Regions from separate parts of the Homo sapiens genome. Here all the other regions are linked to region 1. Evidence: fine-mapped expression QTL. A gene starts in region 1. Each other region holds a variant in brackets. All regions are shown on one strand. Distances are from middle to middle.

Evidence for each region. PIP is the estimated chance that this variant, and not a neighbour inherited with it, causes the effect.
Region 2: its variant is the best candidate, but not a certain one, in a credible set for the expression of RPF2 in whole blood (TOPMed, PIP 0.65).
Region 3: its variant is the best candidate, but not a certain one, in a credible set for the expression of RPF2 in whole blood (INTERVAL, PIP 0.53).
Region 4: its variant is the best candidate, but not a certain one, in a credible set for the expression of RPF2 in monocytes (BLUEPRINT, PIP 0.68).
Region 5: its variant is the best candidate, but not a certain one, in a credible set for the expression of RPF2 in T cells (TOPMed, PIP 0.74).

The regions. Positions count from the first base shown.
Region 1 is chr6:110,980,277-110,984,615 of GRCh38, reverse strand. RPF2 (ribosome production factor 2 homolog) reads right to left here and starts at 2,578. Exons shown (of 10, transcript NM_032194.3): 1 at 2,487-2,578. The coding sequence starts at 2,509.
Region 2 is chr6:111,032,810-111,037,148 of GRCh38, reverse strand. No RefSeq gene overlaps it. Among named protein-coding and RNA genes, the nearest start is that of SLC16A10, 53 kb to the left of the region's middle. The variant C/T (reference allele first, on the strand shown) is at 2,462.
Region 3 is chr6:110,842,325-110,846,663 of GRCh38, reverse strand. It overlaps a transcript of AMD1 not described here. Among named protein-coding and RNA genes, the nearest start is that of SNORA40C, 4.1 kb to the left of the region's middle. The variant A/G (reference allele first, on the strand shown) is at 2,023.
Region 4 is chr6:111,017,973-111,022,311 of GRCh38, reverse strand. The region is part of intron 8 of RPF2 (ribosome production factor 2 homolog); the gene reads right to left. Among named protein-coding and RNA genes, the nearest start is that of RPF2, 38 kb to the right of the region's middle. The variant G/A (reference allele first, on the strand shown) is at 2,054.
Region 5 is chr6:111,023,429-111,027,767 of GRCh38, reverse strand. RPF2 (ribosome production factor 2 homolog) reads right to left here. Exons shown (of 10, transcript NM_032194.3): 9 at 3,441-3,585; 10 at 1-2,365. The coding sequence ends at 2,186. Among named protein-coding and RNA genes, the nearest start is that of RPF2, 44 kb to the right of the region's middle. The variant C/T (reference allele first, on the strand shown) is at 2,128.

The DNA of each region.
Region 1 (4,339 bases):
CGCTCACCTCGGCTCCCAAAGTGCTGGGATTACAGGTGCGAGCCACAAGGGCCGGCCAAAATCTCACTTTTTTGGTAGATATTAGTAAAAGATATTTCCTTATTATTGTTAAATAAGTGTTTTGATAGCTTTTAAAAAAAAGCTTTCATTTTTGTATTCCCACCATTCTTTTATTACTGCTCTTTCCAATCTTTTTTTTAAGTAAAAAATAAAAGGCTCAAGTAAATACTGTTGCTGTTTTTTTTCTCTTACTCTTTCTTACTCTTCTTTTTTCTTCAAACTTTAAGTAGTCAAACTGTATCCTGTACCCTAATACAAAGAATTGAGCATCAACTGCTGATCAACCTGTGGACATTTACTAAACATAAGACTAACGACTGCTTATTTTTCTTTTAGGTTTAAGACCACAATGCCTGCCAGGAAGTATACACTGTTGCACTCCAACATCATTGCTGAGAATGCCAGTATTATTGCCAACAATGGGGAATAATAAGGCTGATGTTTACATGGAGTCACTCTATTAAGGCTTAATCTTCACCACAATCCTGAGAGTTACAATTCTTATTTATTTATTTATTTATTTTTTTGAGACAGAGTCTCGCTCTGTCGCCCAGGCTGGAGTGCAGTGGTGCGATCTCGGCTCACTGCAAGCTCCGTCTCCCAGGTTCACGCCATTCTCCTGCCTCAGCCTCCCGAGTAGCTGGGACTACAGGCGCCCGCCACGACGCCCGGCTAATTTTTTGTATTTTTAGTACAGACGAGGTTTCACCGTGTTAGCCAGGATGGTCTCGATCTCCTGACCTCGTGACCCACCCCCCCGCCTCAGCCTCCCAAAGTGCTGGGATTACAGGCGTGAGCCTCCACGCGCGAGTTACAATTCTTATCTTCACTTTACAGATGAGGCAATTGAACAGACAGGTAATGTGCCCAAGATCACACAGCAAGTAAACAGGCCAATTTTTAAAATGAGCTAGGGCTGGGAGGTGGCCCACAGCCTGTAATAAAAACACTCTAGGAGGCCAAGGTGGATGGATCACTGAGCCCAGAAGTTCGAGACCAGCCTGGGCAACAATGCAAAACCCTGTCTCTACAAAAAATACAAAAATTAGCTGTGGTGGTGTGCGCCTATAGTCCCAGCTACTCAGCAGGCTGAGGTAGGAGGACTGCTTGATCCCAGGGAGGTCGAGGCTGCAGTGAGCTGTGATGGGGCTACTGCACTCCAGCCTGGGTGACAGAGTGATACCCTGTCTCAAAAAAAAACAAATTTTTTAAAGCTAGATTTAAAAATTCGTCTAGACCAATTACCCTGTAAAATATGAAGGGAAAATAAATTCATTATTCTGACTTTATGATGTGACAGTAGGAGTGGCATGTTTTTACACACTTCTGTTCAAAAGAGGGGCTTCACCTCTGCTTCCTCTACAATGAGCACCTTGCTTTTCAGACAGTTCTCTGCCATCTACTGAAAGAATTCTTCCTCCCAAATAATTATGACCCTCCCTCGTCCAGTCCCATGGACACTTTGGGAAGAAAAAGAGACCATACATACACTTAAGTTTCCCATGTAGATTTTTAAAATACTCCTCCAGATATAATGTCACATATAAAGCTTCTGATCATTTACTGGTTGATAAAGATACAAATTATTCTATCTTTTGTATCTCATTAAACAGCAACAAATGCAAATAGCAATTAACATGTTTTATTAGCTGCCTGCTCCCAATTAACGTGTGAACTAGTCCCAATACCTAGTAAACTACTCTTTGTAGTCCAAACAGCTAGAGGCATAGCAGGTGTGCAAAATCTCTGAATGACTAAAACTGTCGTTTTGGATACATGTTAACTTAGGTAAATAGCAAGAAAATCACAGCAAGTAACAGCAGGGCTGTTTAGCCCAAATATTCTTGAACAAATTTAAAACAGGTATCATTCAAGGATAACTCAGAGGAGTGTACAAAGTTGGAAGGAAAAGAAAAAACTAATGAACATTTCTACGTGCTGCAGCAAAGGCTCTACATACATTCTCGAAACTAACCCTCACAGCTCTATGAAGTATGACTATGGTGAGCGCTATTTTACAGAATAAGCTAAGATTTAGAGATATTTAATGACCCAAAGTCACAAAGCTTTAAGTGGACGCGCCAGACTGTCACTCAGATCTGTCGGATTCCGAGGGCTGTGCTCCTAACCCCACTATACCATCTGTCTCATACTTCGGAAGTCAGACGTTTTTCAACTGGCTAGGATAAAAGCGGCCAACGCTTCAATCCCACATCCCTCCCATCCCACGGCTCCCACTTGAGAGCTTCCCCACTGTCTCCTGGCAAGCAGCTCGCGCTGAGGAGGACCCGGGCTGGTGATCGATCGGCCCCCACCCAGGTAATTAGAGGGGTAACCAGGAAGAGTGAGAGGCCGAGACAGTACCACCCTCATCACGGGACCCTTTCACCCCAACGCTCCCCGGGGCTGAGACCCAGCGCACTTACACTACTCGATCCAGAGTGTCCATCGCTACCGCTACCTGCAACTCTTAACCAGGGGGCATGCACGTGCCCTCGGCGATTACGTGCGCCGGAACAGGCGGAACCGGAAGCTGCGCGTAACGCCACTTCCGGGGACGGCCTCGTAGAGGGCGTCTAGAGGCGCTGGCGGCCATCTTGATTGGAATCGCGCCCTGTTGTCTTGGTTACGGATTTTTGCCCCGGCTCTTTCCTGGAGTTACAGGTGCGAGGTAATACTTTTAAGTAACACTGGCCGGGCGTGGTGGCTCACGCCTGTAATCCCAGGATTTTGGGAGGCCCAGGCGGGCGGATTACCTGATAACAGGAGTTCGAGACCAGCCTGGCCAACATGGCGAAACCCCGTCTCTACTAAAAATACAAAAATTAGCCGGGCGTGGTGGCGGGCGCCTCTAACCCCAGCTACTCGGGAGGCTGAGGCAGGGAGAACTGCTTGAACCCGGGAGGCGGAGGTTGCAGTGAGCGGAGATCGCGCCACTGCACTCCAGCCTGGGTGACAGAGCGAGACTTCGTCTCAAAAATAAAATAAAAATAAAATAAAATAACATAGACCCTCGCAGTTTGATGTACGCGCTAGTGTGCATACCTGGAGTCAGGTATTCAGAAACCAGATTTTATTCTTCAAGGAATCCCAGGATGCTAGAAAGGTTGATTGATTGCACGGTAGGTACTCACATAAGCACTAAAAACATTGATGTGAAAGGGGCACTATTGACAACTATGCGATCTGTGTGACAGAATTTATGACTACCACAGTTGCCTAGTACATAAAAGATGCGCAGAAAATGTACTGCTGTTCGTGATTTTTCCCCAGTTTTTAAGTTACCATATACTTCACATACCATAAAATGTACCCCTTTACAGTGTACAATTCAGTGATTTTTGGTGTATTCACAAAGATGTGCAAATATCACCACTAATTCCAGAATATTTAATCACCTCAAAAAGAACCCCCCTGACACACACACCCAGTAGCAGTCCATGCCCCACTTCCCCCTCCTGCCAGCCCTTGGCAACCAATAATCTACTTTATGTTCAATGGATTTGCCTATTCTGAACATATATAAATGGTTTCGTGCAACGTATGGCCTTTTGTGTTTGACTTCTTTCACTATCTTTTTGAGGTTCATACATGTAGCGTGGATCAGTACTTCCATTTTGTTAGGACTGAATAATATTCCTTTGTATGGATATACCACATTTTGTTTATCCATTTATCAACCTAGGTACTTTTTTTATTTTAGACATAGTCTTGCTCTGTCGCCAGGGCTGAAGTGCAGTGGTGCGATCTTGGCTTACTGCGCCGTCCACCTCCCGGGTTCAAGCAGTTCTGCCTCAGCCTCCCAAGTAGCTGGGATTACATGCACGCACCACCACACCTTGCTAACTTTTGTATTTTTTAGTAGAGACAGGGTTTCACCATGTTGGCCAGGCTGGTCTTGAACTTCTGAGCTCAGGTAATCCACCCGCCTTGGCCTCTCAAAGTGCTAGGAATACAGGCGTGAGCTACTGTACCCGGCAGCTTATGTACATTTGAATGGTTCCTATTTTTTGGCTATTATGGATTATGCTGCTTTGTGTTTTTTTGTTTTGTTTTGCTTTGCTTTGTTTTGTTTCTGAGACAGAGTCTCACTCTGTCACACAGGCTGGAGTGCAGTGATGCAATCTCAGGTTACTGCAACCTCCATCTCCTGGGTTCAAGTGATTCTAGTGCTTCAGCCTCTCGAGTAGCTGGGACCACAAGCGCGTGCCACCACACCCAGCTGCTTTGAATATTAGTGTACAAATTTTTGTGTGGACATACATTTTCAATTCTCTAG
Region 2 (4,339 bases), 53 kb before region 1:
CCCAACTGTAGAACAGTCTCCTTTATCCTAACTATGTGTATATTTCTCCCCCAGGTTCTGAACTTTTCTTTGTGTCTTTTTTTTGTCTTCATGAAAGTGGAAGAACACCGTTTAAAGAGACAAAGGTCAATAGCAGCCCTGAGGCTTGTCAGTAAAGATCTGCTTTCTGGATGCCATGGATGTATTCATCATTCATCAATATCCTTTGGGTGTAGTTGTTTAAATTGCTATGAATTGGCCTGGGTGCTGATTAGTTACATCATTTCTCCATGTGATTCACATGAATACTGTGAGACACTTAAGACATCTTGCTGAGAATCCACTAGATTAGGAATTAGAAGACTTGAGTTCTAGGCCCAGATTTACCTCTTTAAGTTGTGTAACGTTGGACAAGTTTACTTAATCCAAGCCTCTGCTTTCTCGACTGGAAATTGTATAAAATACCACCTGCACTATTCAGTTTATGGAATATTTTAAATATCAACTGAAAATACCATGTGAAAGCACTTTCAAAAAAAGACTGCGCTTATCAGCCGGGTATGGTGGCTCACGCCTATAATCCCAGCACTTAGGGAGGCCAAGGTGGGCGGATCATGAGGTCAGGAGTTCGAGATCAGCCTGGCCAACATGGCGAAACCCTGCCTCTACTAAAAATACAAAAATTACCCCAGTGTGGTGGCGGGCGCCTGTAATCCCAGCTACTTGGGAGGCTGAGGCAGGAGAATTGCTTGAACCTGGGAGGCGGAGGTTGCAGTGAGCCGAGATCATGCCACTGCACTCTAGCCTGGGTGACACAGCAAGACTCCATCTCAAAAAAAAAAAAAGAAAAAAGAAAAAAAGATTGTGCTTATCATATTATTTATAATAATATCAACAGGAAATGCCATTAATGCCCAACAATAGAATGACTAAAATAAATAACATATCCACGTAATCAAATATTACAGAGCCATCAAAAATAGTGTTTAAAAAATAACTAATGACACAAGAAACTGCTTACATATAACATTGATTTCAAAGAGCAGGGCAGGCCAGGCACAATGGCTCACACCTGTAATCCCAGCACTTTGGGAAGCTGAGGCGGGAGGATTGCTTGAGCCCAGGAGTTCAAGATCAGCCTGGGCAACATGGCAAGACCTCTGTTGTAAAAAATTAGCTGGGCGGTGGCACATGCCTGCAGTCCGAGCTACTAGGAATGCTGAGGTGGGAGGATCACCTAAGCCTGGGAGGTTGAGGCTGCAGTGTGCTGTGATCATGCCACTGTACTCCAGCCAGGGAGAGTGAGAATCTGTCTTAAAAAAAATAAAGGGCAGAGCACCTAGTAAACCCTTGGGCAAGGGCCAATGATGGGAGCAGGTACAAGGGGACTTCTGTCGGTCTTTACAATATTTCTATTTCTTTTTCTTTTCCCACTTAGATAAAGGGGGTACATGTACAGTTTTGTTACCTGGGTATGTTGCATGATGCTGAAGTTTGGGGTATGAGTGATCCCATTACCTAGGTATTGAGCACAGTACCCAATAGTTTCTGAACCCTTGGCCTCCTTTCTCCCTCCCCGCTAGTAGTCGGTCCCCAGTATCTACTGTTGCCATCTTTATGTCCATGAGTACCAATTGTTTAGCTCCTACTTACAAGTGTGGTATTTGGTTTTCTGTTCCTTTACGTTAATTCACTTAGGATATTATTTCTATTTCTTGATCTGGATAATTATGCAAGTGTGTTCACTTGGTAAAAATTCGTCATGTTTTGCTCTTATGAACACTTCCATACATGTAGGTTTTAGCTATATATGTATTTAAAAATAAAAAAGCAGAACTCAAAATAAGACCACAGTTTTATTTTATGTATTTTGTTGATTGATTTATTGACTGATTGTGACAGAGTCTCATTCTCTGTTGCCCAGGATAGAATGCAGTGGCATGATCTAGACTCACTGCAACTTTTGCCTCCAGGGTTCAGGCTATTCTCCTGGCTCAGCCTCCTGAGTAGCTGGGACTACAGGTGCGTGTCACCATTCCTGGCTAATTTTTGTATTTTTAGTAGAGATGGGGTTTTGCCATGTTGGCCAGGCTGGTCTCAAACTCCTGACCTCAAGTGATCCGCCCGCCTCGGCCTCCCAAAGCGCTGGGATTATAGGCGTGAGGCACCGTGCCCAACCCCATAGTTTTATTTTTAAATTTGGGGTTTTTTAAAAGATATATATTTTAAATATTTTTTAGAGACAGTGTCTTACTCTATCAATCACCGAGGCTGGAGTGCAGTGGCAAAACCACAGCTCACTGCAGTCTCAGACTCATGGGCTGAAATGATCCTCCTGCCTCAGTCTCCAGAGTAGCCAGGACTATAGGCATGCACCACTATGCCTGGCTAAGTTTTTAAATTGTTTGTAGAGACAGGATCTTGATATGTTGCCCAGGCTAGTCTTGAACTTCTGGCCACAAGCAATACTCCTGAAATTATA[C/T]GTGTGAGCCACCGTGCCTGGTCCTATTTTTATTTTTTTAGAGACAAGGTCTTGCTATGTTACTCAGGCTGGAGTACAGTGGCTATTCACAGGCATGATTATAGCATACTAAGGCCACCTGGGCTTAAGGAACTCTCCTGCTTCAGTCTCCTGAGTAGCTGGCGAAATCCCCTTTGCAAAAATTATAACTGAGGAAATTATGACAGTGAAAGAAATCAGACCTAAACAACTCCATCTTGCTTCTAACCTTTAAGCTGTCCTTGTTCATCCCTGGGCATAGGCTGAACCAACTTTGGGAAGGAATTCAGTTCATGGTTTGACTCTAGAAACAAAATTGGTAATAGCTCTTTCCTGAAACGACCCCCTTCTTGCCTGGGGACCAGTCTGCCTTCGCAGGACTAACAAATTAGCTACAAGGCTAGAAATTACAGTTTAGGGGTCATGCAGCCTCTGGCTCCAAGAGTCTGAACCTTCCCAAATTGCTCCTGGGGATAATATCACCATTGTGAAACCTACGATCAGAGCTATTGTGCAGACCCTGCACTCGATGGATCAGCTGACACCACCCAGACGGCAATCTGGCTCAACCAGTTCTGCCATCCCACCCAGGAACAGAAGAGAGCAAGAAAAATTCACTTCCGCCCCCTGTGAGTCCATCTCCAACCTGACCAATCAGCACTCCCCACTTCCCAAGCCCCTACCCGCAAAATTATCTTTGAAAACTCTGATCCCCAAATGCTCAGGGAGACTGATTTGGGTAATAATAAAACTCTGGTTTCCCACATAGCCGGCTCTGCGTGAATTACTCTTTGTCCATTGCAATTCCCCTGTCTTGGTAAATCGACTCTGTCTAGGCAGCCGGTAAAGTGAACCCTTTGGGCACTTAACTGGGACTACATGCTCACCACCACACCCAGCTTAAAACTATGCATTTTTTTCAGTGGTAAGAAATACAGCAAAATGTTAATTACCTGGTATTACCTGAGATTACAGATGACTTTTATTTTCATCTTTGCAACTTTCCCTTTGATTATCAGAAAAAAAGTTCGTTTTTTTTTTTTAAATCAGAAAAATATTCCTTGTATTTGAAAGAAAATGCTTGGCCTGGTGTGGTGGCTCACCCCTGTAATCCCAGCACTTTGTGAGACCGAGTCGGGCAGATCAACTGAGGTCAGGAGTTCCAGACCAGCCTGGCCAACATAGCAAAAACCCATCTCTACTAAAAATACAAAAATTAGCCAGGCATGGTGGTGGGCGCCTGTAATCCCAGCCACTCAGAAGGCTGAGGCAGGAGAATCACTTGAACCTGGGAGGCGGAGGTTGCAGTGAGCCAAGATCCGTGCCACTGCACTCCAGCCTGGGGTGACAGAGCAAGACTTGTCTCAAAAAAAAAAAAAAGAAAAAAGAAAAAGAAAAACAAAAAGGAAAGAAAGAAAATGCTTTCTAAATTGTAAACATATACAGTGTCAGGTGTTATTCCCAATGCCTGAAACATAATAATGCTTGATAAATGTGGAGTGATTGGTTATTGTCCTGTGAAAGTTGAACCATAAGAATTGGGTCATTCTTGTCAGATCCAACTAAAACAGAGTCAAGAAGCTAGGAGGAAAAACATTCAGGGTACCAAAGCATTGCTCCAAGAATAGACTTTCTTTGCAAGCCTGGCTGCTGAAGCTGCTTGTTGTAAGCTGAAACCAGTTTTATCTATAGCTTCTGAGATAACTTGCTACAATTCTAGGACTAATTTTGCCCTCTGCTGTTGCTCACCGATCAGAGCTCCCAGCTCCCCAAACCCACAGTGCCAACGAACTTTCTCAAAGAGCAATACATAACATTTCTCCTTTTTAATAAAACCTCTGGCCTTTTCTTTGTTCTTCA
Region 3 (4,339 bases), 140 kb after region 1:
TCCTGACCTTGTGATCCACCTGCCTCAGGCTCCCAAAGTGCTGGGATTACAGGTGTGAGCCACCACCTGCCACACCAAGCCAACTTGAGATAATTTTTCTAAAAAGATTTAACTGTACATTTACATCATTTCATGTAAGTCTGAATTTAATCGTAAATGTTAATTTATACAATGGCATTTAATGTTTCCTCTGATAGTTTCTGTAACTTGTAGATGTCAGTCATATAAGAAATTAAAAGTGGCTTCATGTATATAATTCAGGATAGCTATTTATGCATTCTACTGTATATTCAATTAAAAGGAAAAAATTAATTTTAGATTTGTCTTCCTCATTAATGTTTTTTTCACCTGAGTTCCACATGAAAAGTGTTCTTTTCTGTTAAATGTGACAATCTTTAAATTCAGTTTTTGTTGTTGTTGTTGTTGTTTGAGACAGTCACACTGTCACCCAGGCTGGAGTGCAGTGGCGCGATCTCAGCTCACTGAAACCTCTGCCTCCTAGGTTCAAGTGATTCTCCTACCTCAGCCTCCCAAGTAGCTGGGATTACATGCGTGCACCACCACACCGGCTAATTTTTGTATTTTTAGTAGAGACGGGGTTTCACCATGTTGGCCAGGCTGGTCTCGAACATCTGACCTTGTGATCCACCCTCCTTGGCCTCCCAAAGTGCTGGGATTACAGGCGTGAGCCATCACGCCCGGCCTAAAATCTGTTTTTATTTGTATGCCTGTGAATATTTTCTTTGAAATGTTGCAGCAGGTTTCAAAACTGGTGTATTAGTCAAGGTTCTCTATAGGGACAGAACTAATAGGATAAATGTATATATGAATAGGAGTTTATTAAGGAGTATTGACTCACACGATCACAAGGCGAAGTCCCACAGTAGGCTGTCTGCAAGCTGAGGAGCAAAGAAGCCCATCCGAGTCCCAAAACCTGAAAAGTATGGAAGCCGACAGTGCAGCCTTCTGTCTCTGGCCTAAGGCCTGAGAACCCCTGGCAAATCGCTGGTATAAGTCCAAGAGCTTAAATAGAGAAAATTATTAGGAGTTTAATGACCCAACAGCAGGGTATTAAACTCAGTATGAGTCCCTTTTGAGACTAAGGCCTGGCCTGTATGCCCATGAAGCCAGCCCTGCATGAATTGCTAATATACTCATTTCACCATGTTTATGCTATGTTAGGTAAGCAACTCAATCTCCAAATTCCCTTTTTGATAGTCTGCTTACTATGTAATTGAGTCATGGGAGCAGATCTCTCATGAATGGTCTAGCACCATTCCCTTAGTGATAGGCAAGTTCTGGTTGTTTAAACGTCTGTGGCACCGGGCCAGGTGTGGTGGCTCATGTCTGTAATCCCAACACTTTGAGAAGCCAAGACAGGTGGGTCGGTTGAGGTCAGGAGTTGGAGACCAGCCTGGCCAACATGGTGAAACCCCGTCTCTACTAAAAATACAAAAATTAGCCGGGCGTGGTGGCTCACGCCTGTAATCTCAGCTACTTGGGAGGCTGAGGCAGGAGATCTCTTGAACCTGGGAGGCAGAAGTTGCAGTGAGCTGAGATCATGCCATTGCACTCCAGCCTGGGCGACAGAGTGAGACACCATATCAAAAAAAAAAAAAAAAAAAGGTCTGTGGCACCTCCCTCCTCACTGTCTCGTGCTTGCGCTTGCTTTCTCTCTCTCTCTCTCCATGTGATTTGCTGGCTTCCCATTTCACCTTCTGTGATGATTAGAAGCTTCGTGAGGCTCACCAGAAGCAGATGCAGGCACCACATTTCTTGTACTGTCTGCAGAACCTTGAGACAATGAAACATCTTTTCTTTATAAATTACCCAGCCTCAGGTATTTCTTTTTTCTTTCTTTCTTTCTTTCTTTTTTTTTTCTGAAATGCAGTTTTGCTCTTGTTGCCCAGGGTGGAGTGCAATGGTGTGATCTTGGCCTACTGCAACCTCTGCCTCCCGGGTTCAAGCCATTCTCCTGCCTCAGCCTCCTGAGTAGGTGGGATTACAGGCGCCTGCCACCAC[A/G]CCCGGCTAATTTTTTGTGTTTTTAGTAGAGATGGGGTTTCACCGTGTTAGCCACGATGGTCTCGATCTCCTGACCTCGTGATCCGCCCACCTCAGCCTCCCAAAGTGCTGGGATTACAGGCGTGAGCCACCACACCCAGCCCAGAAGAAGCCTTCATCTAGATATCATAAAAATACTAAACTTGGCCAGGCAAGGCGGCTCATGCCTATAATCCCAGCACTTTAGGAGGCCAAGGCGGGAGGATCACCTGAGGTCAGGAGTTTGAGACCAGCGAGACCAACATGACAAAACCCCGTCTCTACTAAAAATACAAAAACTAGCCAGGCATTGTGGCACATGCCTGTAATCCCAGCTACTCAGTCAAAAAAAAAAAAAGATTATAATTCTCTTTCTTTCTTTCTTTCTTTTTTTTTGAAGTAGGGACAGGATCTTGCTATGTTGGCTACACTGGTCTCAACCTCCTGGGCTCAAGTGATCCAACTTGGCCTCCTAAAGTGCTGGGATTACAGGCGTGAGCCACTGCACCTGGGATTCTTGTATAGGTGGATTACTGCTTATAGGAGGCAGGATAATGAATCCTTAAACATATCAATGTCCTAATCTTCAGAATCTGTAAATGTTAGGTTACATAGCTAAGGAGGATTTAGATTGCAGATGGAACTAAGAATGCTAATCAGCTGATTTTAGGGAGATTATCCTAGATTATCTGGGGAGGCCCAATATAATCCCAAAGGTCCTTAAAAGTGGAAAAGGGGCCGAGCTCCGTGGCTCACACCTGTAATCGCAACACTTTGGGAGGCCTAGGCAGGCAGATCGCTTGAGCTCATGAGTTTGAGACCAGCATGGCAACATGGCAAGACCCCACCGGTACAAAAAAAACTACAAAAATTAGCCAGGTGTGGTGGTGCACGCCTGTAGTCTGCTACTCAGGAAGCTGAGGTGGAAGGATCCACCTGAGCCCAGTAGGTGGAGGCTACAGTGAGCCAAGATGGCGCCACTGCACTCCAGCCTGGGTAATAGTGAGACCCTGTCTCAAAATAAATGAATAAATAAATATATTAAACATATTTATTTTATATTCTGTATCTAAAATTCTAGCATCTGAAGTTTTTGAGGCTGCTTCCAACTCATAGTACTTTATTTTCTTGTGTGTTTTTTGACTTTTTTTTTTTTTTCAAGATGGAGTTTCACTCTTATCGCCCAGGCTGGAGTGCAGTGGGGCCATCTCAGCTCACTACAACCTCTGCCTCCTCGGTTCTAGCGATTCTCCTGCCTCAGCCTCCCGTGTAGCTGGGATTATAGGCCTGCACCACTGCGCCCAGCTAATTTTTTTGTATTTTTAGTAGAGGTGGGTTTCTCCATGTTGGCCAGGCTAGTCTCCAACTTCTGACCTCAGGGGATCCGCCCGCCCAGGCCTTCCAAAGTGCTGCGATTTCAGGCGTGAACCACCATACCCCAGCCATTTTTTGACTTTTGACTAAAAGCATATGTTTTTTAGACTTTTTTTTGAGAGGGAGTCTCGCTTTGTCGCCCAGGCTGGAGTGCAGTGGCCCGATCTCGGCTCACTGCAACCTCTACCTCCCAGGTACAAGCAATTCTCCTGCCTCAGCCTCCCGAGTAGCTGGGACTACAGGTGCCCACCACCATGCCCGGCTAATTTTTGTATTTTTAGTAGAGACGGGGTTTCATGATATTGTCCAGGCTGGTCTCGAACTCCTGACCTTGTGATCCATCCCCCTCGGCCTCCCAAATTGCTGGGATTACAGGTGTGAACCACCACACCTGGTGGTTTTTTGACTTTTGACTAAAAGTTTTGGTTCAATATCTGTGGGAATTGTTTGAGGTCTAGGTTGAAGGGTGTTCTTCCAGAGAGGATTTTCTTTTCCTTATACTAGCTGTCTAGGGCACTACCAACCTAAGACCAACTTAATTTTCATCATAAAGTGTTTGGGACCACATAGACATTAAAAACTATGAAGGGTCTGAGATTCTACTCTGCCATGGTTAGCCTGCCACAGTTGCTTGAATGTTGGCAGAAAACGACTACTACTACTATTACTGCTAAGCTACTCTTTGGTCAGAGACAAATGACAGTTTATTACTCAAAGCAATAGCAGTAGTCAGAGTGTCAGCATTTGTGTTGGTTCTCCAAGTCCCAAACACAAAGTGGGGCAGGTGACATCTGTATATGCAGAGGGTTGTGTTATAGGAAAGGATCCCCAAATTTAGAGAACAAGAATGTTTTATAATGGACATTAAGCCTGCTGCCTTTTTCTCCCCAGCATAGATAGTCATTATCCCTGTCTTCCAATGCTG
Region 4 (4,339 bases), 38 kb before region 1:
TTGAGGAAGAGTGACATTACCACTACTGTTCAAATTGTAATTTCCTCATTTTTCTCCCTCTCATACACTTCTCTGGCTGAAAGTCTGTTTTCATTAAGTAAACTCCTCAATTAGAATGTTATGTTTGCTTTTCAAAGTATGCTACCACTTTGTTTTGCATATTTCCCCCCATAAGGCCTAACCATTGTGCAAAGGCACATGTGGCATTACTAACGATTTTGTTTCATATTAATGGCTCTGACTCCATAGTGAATAAAATTTCCCAACGGATATAAATAGTCACTCACATACAAGGAATAATTACTATAGGATGTATAGGAACAGTGGTCAATAACACTATGATTTATTCACCCAAAAGATCATGTTAAAGGTTATATTAATATAATTTCCTGTTTAGAGTTCCTTTCATCCAAAAAGCTCAAAACCATTTTATAAACCTCATTTATCTTCACAAATAAAGTGTGTGAATATTAAATATTACCATTTTCAAATTGCATAAGGGCTAATTTGCAGTAAGAGCGAGGGAAAGGGTTCCACAGTATAGCTAGCCCAAAGAATGCCTGGGGAGCCAAGTTAAGTCAGACATACTTTCTGGTATATGCCCATCTATGAGTACCCCTTTACTCTTATAAAGCAGTACTGTCAATCTTAGGGGGACCTCAGAATTATCTAAATGGTATTGCTATAGTTTACAGAGGAAGAAACAAAGACCCTGAGAAGTGGTGACCTGCCCATGTCACGTGGCTGAGCCCAGCTCAGAGCCAGGTCAGTAGGCTCAGAGGTGATGCTGAATCCCTGGACCACCCCTTCCTCCCATCCTCAATGCTCCCCAAGTGTGGCACAGCCTCTGGAAGCTAAGCTGATCCACATGTTTAGTGATTCTTTCAAGTAGCAGCTCACTCTCAATCACAGTGTCCATTTTTTATTTCAAATTAATAGCTAACAAGTATTACAAGGCACATATGGAACATCTAGTGATCAAAATTACATACTAGGGTCTCTGATTTTAAAATTTCAAACTTTTTTTCATTATGAAAGATGTCGTGCTAGTGTAAAGGTGATTCTAGCAATCAGATTTTTGGTGGATCTATGTATTATAGTTACACTGCTAGTTTTTTATTTTTGTTTTTATTTTTATTTTTTTGAGACAGAGTCTTGCTCTGTCACCAGGCCGGAGTGCTGTGGCACAATCTAGGCTCGCTGCAATCTCCGACTCCGTGGTTCAAGCAATTCTCCTGCCTTGGCCCCCTGAATAGCTGGGATTACAGGCATGCGCCACCATGTCCAGCTAATTTTTTGTATTTTTAGTATAGATGATGTTTCACCGTGTTAGCCAGGATGGTCTCGATCTCCTGACCTCGTGATCTGCCCACCTCAGTCTCCCAAAGGGCTGCTGGGATTACAGGGATGAGCCACCGTGCCCGGCCTTACTGCTAGTTTATTCTTTTTTTTCTCTTTTTTTGAAATGGAGTCTCGCTGTCACCCAGGCTGGAGTGCAGTGGTGCGATCTTGGCTCACTGCAACCTCTGCCTCCCGGGTTCTCCTGCATCAGCCTCCTGAGTAGCTGGGATTACAGGTGCACACCATGTTGCCCGGCTAATTTTTATATTTTTAGTAGAGACGGGGTTTCACCATGTTGGCCAGGCTGGTCTCAAACTCCTGACCTCAGGTGATCCACCCATCTTGGCCTCCCAAAGTACTGGATTACAGGCATGAGCCACCACGCTGGGCCAGTTTATTCTTGCTCTAAAGTCTGACTTGATAATTCTCTATTTTGTTTTATTTTCTCTGTATCTTTCTTTACAAATAAACCCTTTTCACTAAATACAAGTGAATACTTTCTGCGAAACCGTTCAACACAGAAGAGTTTTAGGCTACTGTTACCACTCATTTCTTACTGTCAATGATTTTTTACCGTTATATTTTTATCTCCCTTGTATCCCCTCTATGTTTAACACAGAGGGCATACATACCCACCCGAGGCAGGAGAATCGCTTGAATGCGGGAGGCAGAGGTTGCAGTGAGCTGAGATGATGCCACTGTACTCCAGCCT[G/A]GGCAACAGCAAGATCCTGCCTCAAAAAAAGAAGTGTTCCAGGTCAGGCGCGGTGGCTCATGCCTGTAATCTCAGCACTTTGAGAGGCCAAGGCAGGTAGATCACGAGGTCAGGAGATTGAGACCATCCTGACTAACATGGTGAAACCCTGTCTCTACTAAAAATACAAAAATAAAATTAGCCGGGCGTGGTGGCGGGTGCCAGTAGTTCCAGCTACTTGGGAGGCTGAGGCAGGAGAATGGCATGAACCCGGGAGGCAGAGGCTGAAGTGAGCTGAGATTGCGTCACTGCACTCCAGCCTGGGCAACATAGCGAGACTCCGTCTCAAAAAAAAAACAAAAGAAAGAAAAGAAAGGTGTTCCAGATTTCTGGTTTTTTTCAGAGTTTGAAATACTTGCATACGTATAATGAGATATCTTGGGGATGAGATCCAAGTCTAAACACAAAATCCATTTATGTTTCATATACAGTTTATATACATAGCCTGAAGGTAATTTTATACAATTTTTATTTTATTTTATTACTTTATGTCTGAGATGGAGTTTCACTCTTGTTGCCCAGGCTGGAGTGCTCGGCTCACTGCAACCTCTGTCTCCCGGGTTCAAGCAATTCTCCAGCCTCAGCCTCCCGAGTAGCTAGGATTACAGGCGCCTACCACCATGCCTGACCAATTTTTGTATTTTTAGTAGCGACGGTGTTATGCCATGTTGGCCAGGCTGGTCTGGAACTACTGACCTCAGGTGATCCACCCGCCTCAGCCTCCCATGTGCTAGGATTACAGGTGTCCAGCCAACATAAGTTTAATTTTGTTTTGTTTTTTTCAGACAGTCTCACTCTGCCACCTAGGCTGGAGTGCAGTGGCACAATCTCAGCTCATTGCAACCTCTGCCTCCCAAGCTGAAGCAATTCTTGTGCCATAGCCGCCTGAGTAGCCGGGATTATAGGCGTGTGGCCCAGGCTCAAGCAATTCTCATGCCACAGCCTCCCAAGTAGCTGGGATTACAGGCGTGCGCCACCATACCCAGCTAATTTTTGTATTTTTTAATAGAGACAGGGTTTCTCCATGTTGGCCAGGCTGGTCTTGAACTCCTCAAGTGATCCGCCCACTCTCTGTAACCTCTGCGTCCTGGGCTCAATTGTCCTGCCTCAGCCTCCTAAGTAGCATGGAGGCCAGTGCCACCATGTCCAGCTAATTTTTGTATTTTTAGTAGAGACAGGTTTCGCTGTGTTGGCCAGGCTGGTCTTGAACTCCTGGCCTCGAGCAATCCACCCACCTCGGCCTCCCAAAGTTCTGGGATTACAGGCATGAGCCACCATGTCCGTCCTGAGTACTTTTTTATATTAGTGATTTTTCATCTTTTATTTCTTGTTCTCTAAATAACAGTCATCTACTGTATAGTATAATACATACTTAGAAGCTCCCAAATCACATATGGAAACTCAAACAGGAGACTTAAGGGGCTTTCGATCTTAACCAGCTAAAAATTACTATAAAGTCTCTAATTACATCTTATGATCATTGGGTATTTTACTGCATTTTGCCTCATTTATTTTTAGTGAGAGGAAAACAGAAAAACAGAAGCGGTGGTATTAATTATATGGAGAAAAAGAACTAAATGTCTCTGATTTAATACAGTTGAGCCCAAGATGGAAATTATCAGCTAAGAGGTGAATATTTAAGTTTCATTTGGACATTCATAGGACATAAAGCTGGTCAGTCATGTATTTTCATTGTGAAGAAAACAAAATAAAAACGATGTACAAAATGCTAGATACAAATGGTTGGACAAACAACACTACTGTACAGAAGACACTGTCAACACCAAGCTGTCAGCTCTCAGGCTGCAACACCAGCCACACCATAGCTCAAAATGTACAGCAAAGTCTAAACTCAATGTACAGAGAAAGGCAATTTGTGGGAGTCAGTGTATTCTTTAGGAAACTGTGGGCTCTGTCAGCCAGTACCAACGCCTTAAAAAAGAGAAGTCACACACTTATCTCAAGAACCACAATTGCCCTCTCCCTCTCCCTCTCCCTCTCCCTCCCCCTCCCCCTCCCCGGTCTCCCCCTGATGCCGAGCCGAAGCTGGACTGTACTGCTGCCATCTCCGCTCACTGCAACCTCCCTGCCTGATTCTCCTGCCTCAGCCTGCCGAGTGCCTGCGACTGCAGGCGCGCGCCGCCACGCCTGACTGGTTTTCGTATTTTTTTGGTGGGGACGGGGTTTCACTGTGTTGGCCAGGCTGGTCTCCAGCTCCTAACCGCGAGTGATCTGCCAGCCTCGGCC
Region 5 (4,339 bases), 43 kb before region 1:
CAATACTTATTAGATCCTCTACCATCAGACACAGAAATTACCTAGAAAACAGAAATGTATTGCCAAATCTCAAACAAGAGGGCTGATTAAAACAAACAAAAACACCCTTAAGACGTCTCACATACAGAAATCATGGCCATCTTTGGGTTAAGATTGGCTGATTTTCCAGTAGTGCTGGGGTAGGTCTTCCTGATAGAGGGGTCCAGGCATGGCAGGGTCCCGTAAGCGGCTGGTGAGGAGGACCCACTGCTTTGCCTCCTACCAGTGATGAGCGAGGCTTTGGGGAAGGACTATGCGTCCATCACTCCTGATGTTCTTTTCATGGCTCCCCTTCTCAGCTATTGTCCATCTACCTCCAGATGGCAGCAAACGACTTATCTGAGCCCCTTCTTCTCATTTAGATATAAAGTGCAAATGTCTGATTCAGGTACGAGACTGTATGGTCTTTGGTTAAACGTATAATCAAACAAAAAGTATAAATGATACCAGCTCCTTCATTTTTCTGGCAAGAGGAGAGTAACAGCTATCCGGAGAGGACTAGGGAAAGCTAAGGAATGGATTCAAAAGAGAAGGGAAAGGGTAGAAGGTAAAGCTGAGGCTCGAACTTTTGCTTAGTGCCAGCATTGTTGATCTGTAGCTGAGCAAGCTTACATAAAGGCATGTATACACAGGCACGGAGCTCTCTAACATGGAATTGAAGTGAAACCCTGTCTCTACAAAAAATCAGCCAGGCGTGGTGGTGGGTGCCTGTAATCCCAGCTACTCGGGAGGCTGAGGCAGAAGAATGCTTGAACCTGGGAGGTGGAGGTTGCAGTGAACTGAAATCGCGCCACTGCACTCCAGCCTGAGCGACAGAGCGAGACTCTGTCTCAAAAAACAACAAAAAAGAAAGCACTGGTACTTCATGTAACAAATTATGATTTGCGTATGTCTGTACCTTTACAACATTACTGGCACTTGTATAAAGGAGATTCCTTGTCAAGGACTGAATCAAGGAACTTAACACCCTATTCCAGAAAAACAAGTATGCAATACTAGTAGAAGGAAGAAGAAAGCTTCTGTTTTCCTAGGCACAAGGCCTGTCTTCAAGAAACTTTCAAAACAAGTAGTTAGGCTTTGGCTGGCTTCTACACCATCTGCAAACGCCCAGGGCCTTCATGCAACCTTTAGCTACCTAGGGCTACCCAGTACCCTAAAGTGCCCTGCACCTTAAAACTCACCTGTTTTCTCCTTTTTCATTTCTGCCCCTATCAAAACTTCTTTTCTGCCAGGTGCAGTGGACCAACATCTGTAGTTCCGGCTGCTCAGGAAGGTGAAGTGGGAGGATCACTTGAGCCCAGGAATTTGAGTCCAGCCTGGGCAACACAGCAAGACCTCATTGCTTTAAAAAAAAAAAGTAGGGCTCAGTGGCTCATGCCTGTAATCCCAGCTACGTAAGAGGCTCAGGCAGGAGGATTACTTGAGCCCAGGAGTTCAGGGCTGCAGTGAGCTGTGATTGTGCCACTGCACTCCACCCTAGGTGACAGAACAAGACCCCATCTCTTAAAAACAAACCAACCAAAAAACACAGGTTTCGTCTCAGAGAAGCGGGGTGGGCTCTACTTAGTAGTAGAGTCTCTTAAAACAATCAACAGTAGTGTAATTTATCAATAATCAGATAGCAGACATCCCTCTCAGAGATCTATATATTTTCAGCCACAAAGCTTAAAATCTCAAATGTCAACGAGTAGGATTTCAGGCAAAATAAAAGTAGAAAATAAAAATCAGAATGTAGATCCATGTTGGGAGAGGAGGTTAACTTTCCAGGTAATTCATACTGAGATTGTTTACACAGCTCCTGCGGGTCCGGCTTTCTGTGGCTTTCTTTAGCTAAGGCCAGAAATTCAAAAAAATCCCAATGGTTATGGAGATCCCTCCTCACCCATCCATCCACCCAATGAGAAAGAAGAATTTGTGGAGGGCAGGGGATATCACAAGAGAAAATGGCACACCAGGGTGTAATGTCTCAAATAAAAGGCTTACTTTACACTTAATACTAGTATATTACTGTTCATAATAATATATCGTAAAATTATCATGTTATAAAAATATATAATAAGATCTTATAAGAAACTCTGAATGGATTGA[C/T]GCTTGATAATTCTCTTAAGTAGAACACAATGAAACAGTAGTGGCTGGCTAAGTTCCATCAATTTTTTTTAATTCTTTTTGACTTTTTCTCGTGGTCTTCTGTTATCCTTTCTGCAGGTCGCTTCTTCAACCCCTTCATTTTCCTGGTTTGTAGTTTGCTTAGGTCTTGCTTCTGCATATGAATCCTTCCATAAGTTGTACCAAAAGTATCATGGGAAATATTTTTCTTCTTCTTTGGCTACGATAAAAGAATATGTATATATTTAATGGCCTTCTACTATAATGAGCCAGTAAAAATCTAGTCTGTAACAACTATCTTAGTAGCAATTTCCATTAGTGCCTGCCCCTTCAGTGACACAGTATATAGCCCTATACACTTTTCTTCTCAAACTTAAGTGTGCATACAAATCACTTGGGATCTTGCTAAAATACAGATCCTAATTCAGTATGTCTAGGGTAGGGCCTGATATTCTGCACAATTCCCAGGTAAACTGTCAGGCCACACTTTGAAAAACAAAACTATAAACTACACTAACCACTGTCACACATCAAGAAAATAGCCTGTGTTTAGCTTAAGAAGTTGTGACTATTGTTTCAATTTCTATTGGCATTTTAGAGATTACATTTCTTCTTGTCTTTTAAAACTACTTAAAAAGTCAAAACACATTTTATGCACATATGGTTTATATACCCTGTACTCTAAATCCTTAGCCTTTACAGTGTACCAAACAACTCTCTTTCTTTTGCTGAAAACAACAGTCTTGACTATCAGAAGGCACTTAGCCAAACCTCATGTCTGGGTTTTGCAACTCTTTTTTTATTATCCCTTATTGTTGGCTTATTTGGTTCTCTCTCCTTTTCCTGGCTCTGTGAGTCCTAGTTTAATCTATTGTATTGATCTCTTTATATATGTCCTTGTCTTTTTTTTTTTTTTTTGGCTCACTCTGTCACCCACGCTGGAGTGCAATGGCGTGATCTCTGCTCACTGCAAGCTCCACCTCCCCGGTTCACGCCATTCTCCTGCCTCAGCCTCCCAAGTAGCTGGGACTACAGGCGCCCGCTACCACGCCCAGCTAATTTTTTGTATTTTTCATAGAGACGGGGTTTCACTGTATTAGCCAGGATGGTCTCGATCTCCTGACCTTGTGATCCACCCACTTCGGCCTCCCAAAGTGCTGGGATTACAGGCGTGAGCCACCGCGCCTGGCCTGTCCTTGTCTTTTAATATAATATGCCACAAATTCTTTTTGGAAAGAAAAAGGATTAAAGTAGAAAATACAAATAAATGTGGTACCAAGCTCTAAGTTATATACCTTGAGAGCTTTTGGCATTTTCATAGATAATTTATAAAGGTCATCCGATGCCAGGTGTGTCCTCCTCAGAACCAGATCCAATGAGGGTCCCATCTCTTCCAATTCAATCCGTGGTGTTCTGCAACCAGATTTCTTCAACAGCAACCTTTAGGAAATAGGTAAAAAGAAATGTTGCTTTGACTTTCATAAAAGTCCTCTCCACCAAATATTTTTTGTTCAGGGGATTTACAATTCCATTAAATGATATAAAATGTTTAGAAAGACTTACTTAAATACTTAATACTATTCAAGCCAAGTATATCCTTTGGTTCACATCTTCTTTTATAAATTTTTTTTTTTTTGAGACGGAGTCTCGCTCTGTCCCCAGGCTGGAGTGCAGTGGCGCGATCTTGGCTCACTGTAAGCTCCACCTCCCAGGTTCACGCCATTCTCCTGCCTCAGCCTCCCGAGTAGCTGGGACTACAGGCACCCGCCACCACACCTGGCTAATTTTTTTGTATTTTTAGTAGAGATGGGGTTTCACCGTGTTAGCCAGGATGGTCTCGCTCTCCTGACCTCATGATCCTCCTGCCTCGGCCTCCCAAAGTACTGGGATTACAGGCATGAGCCACCATGCCCGGCTTTTCTTTATAAGTCTTTTATCCCTTTTTGAGCTAAAGGGTCACACAAATATCAAATTAAAAATTTTTTTTTTCTCTTTGAGGTCAAGGGCAGTTTGCTTATTTTTAAAAATCAGAAATAAAATTATACAATATTATTGAGAAACAGCAAGTGAGATACAAAATTATTCTCAGAAATGAAATAAAATCCTTTGATTTGACTTCTTCATCTTACTCATAGATTTATGTATGTATAAAAGTAATTATAATTGGCTTTTTCTTTGAAACAGTATGTTTATA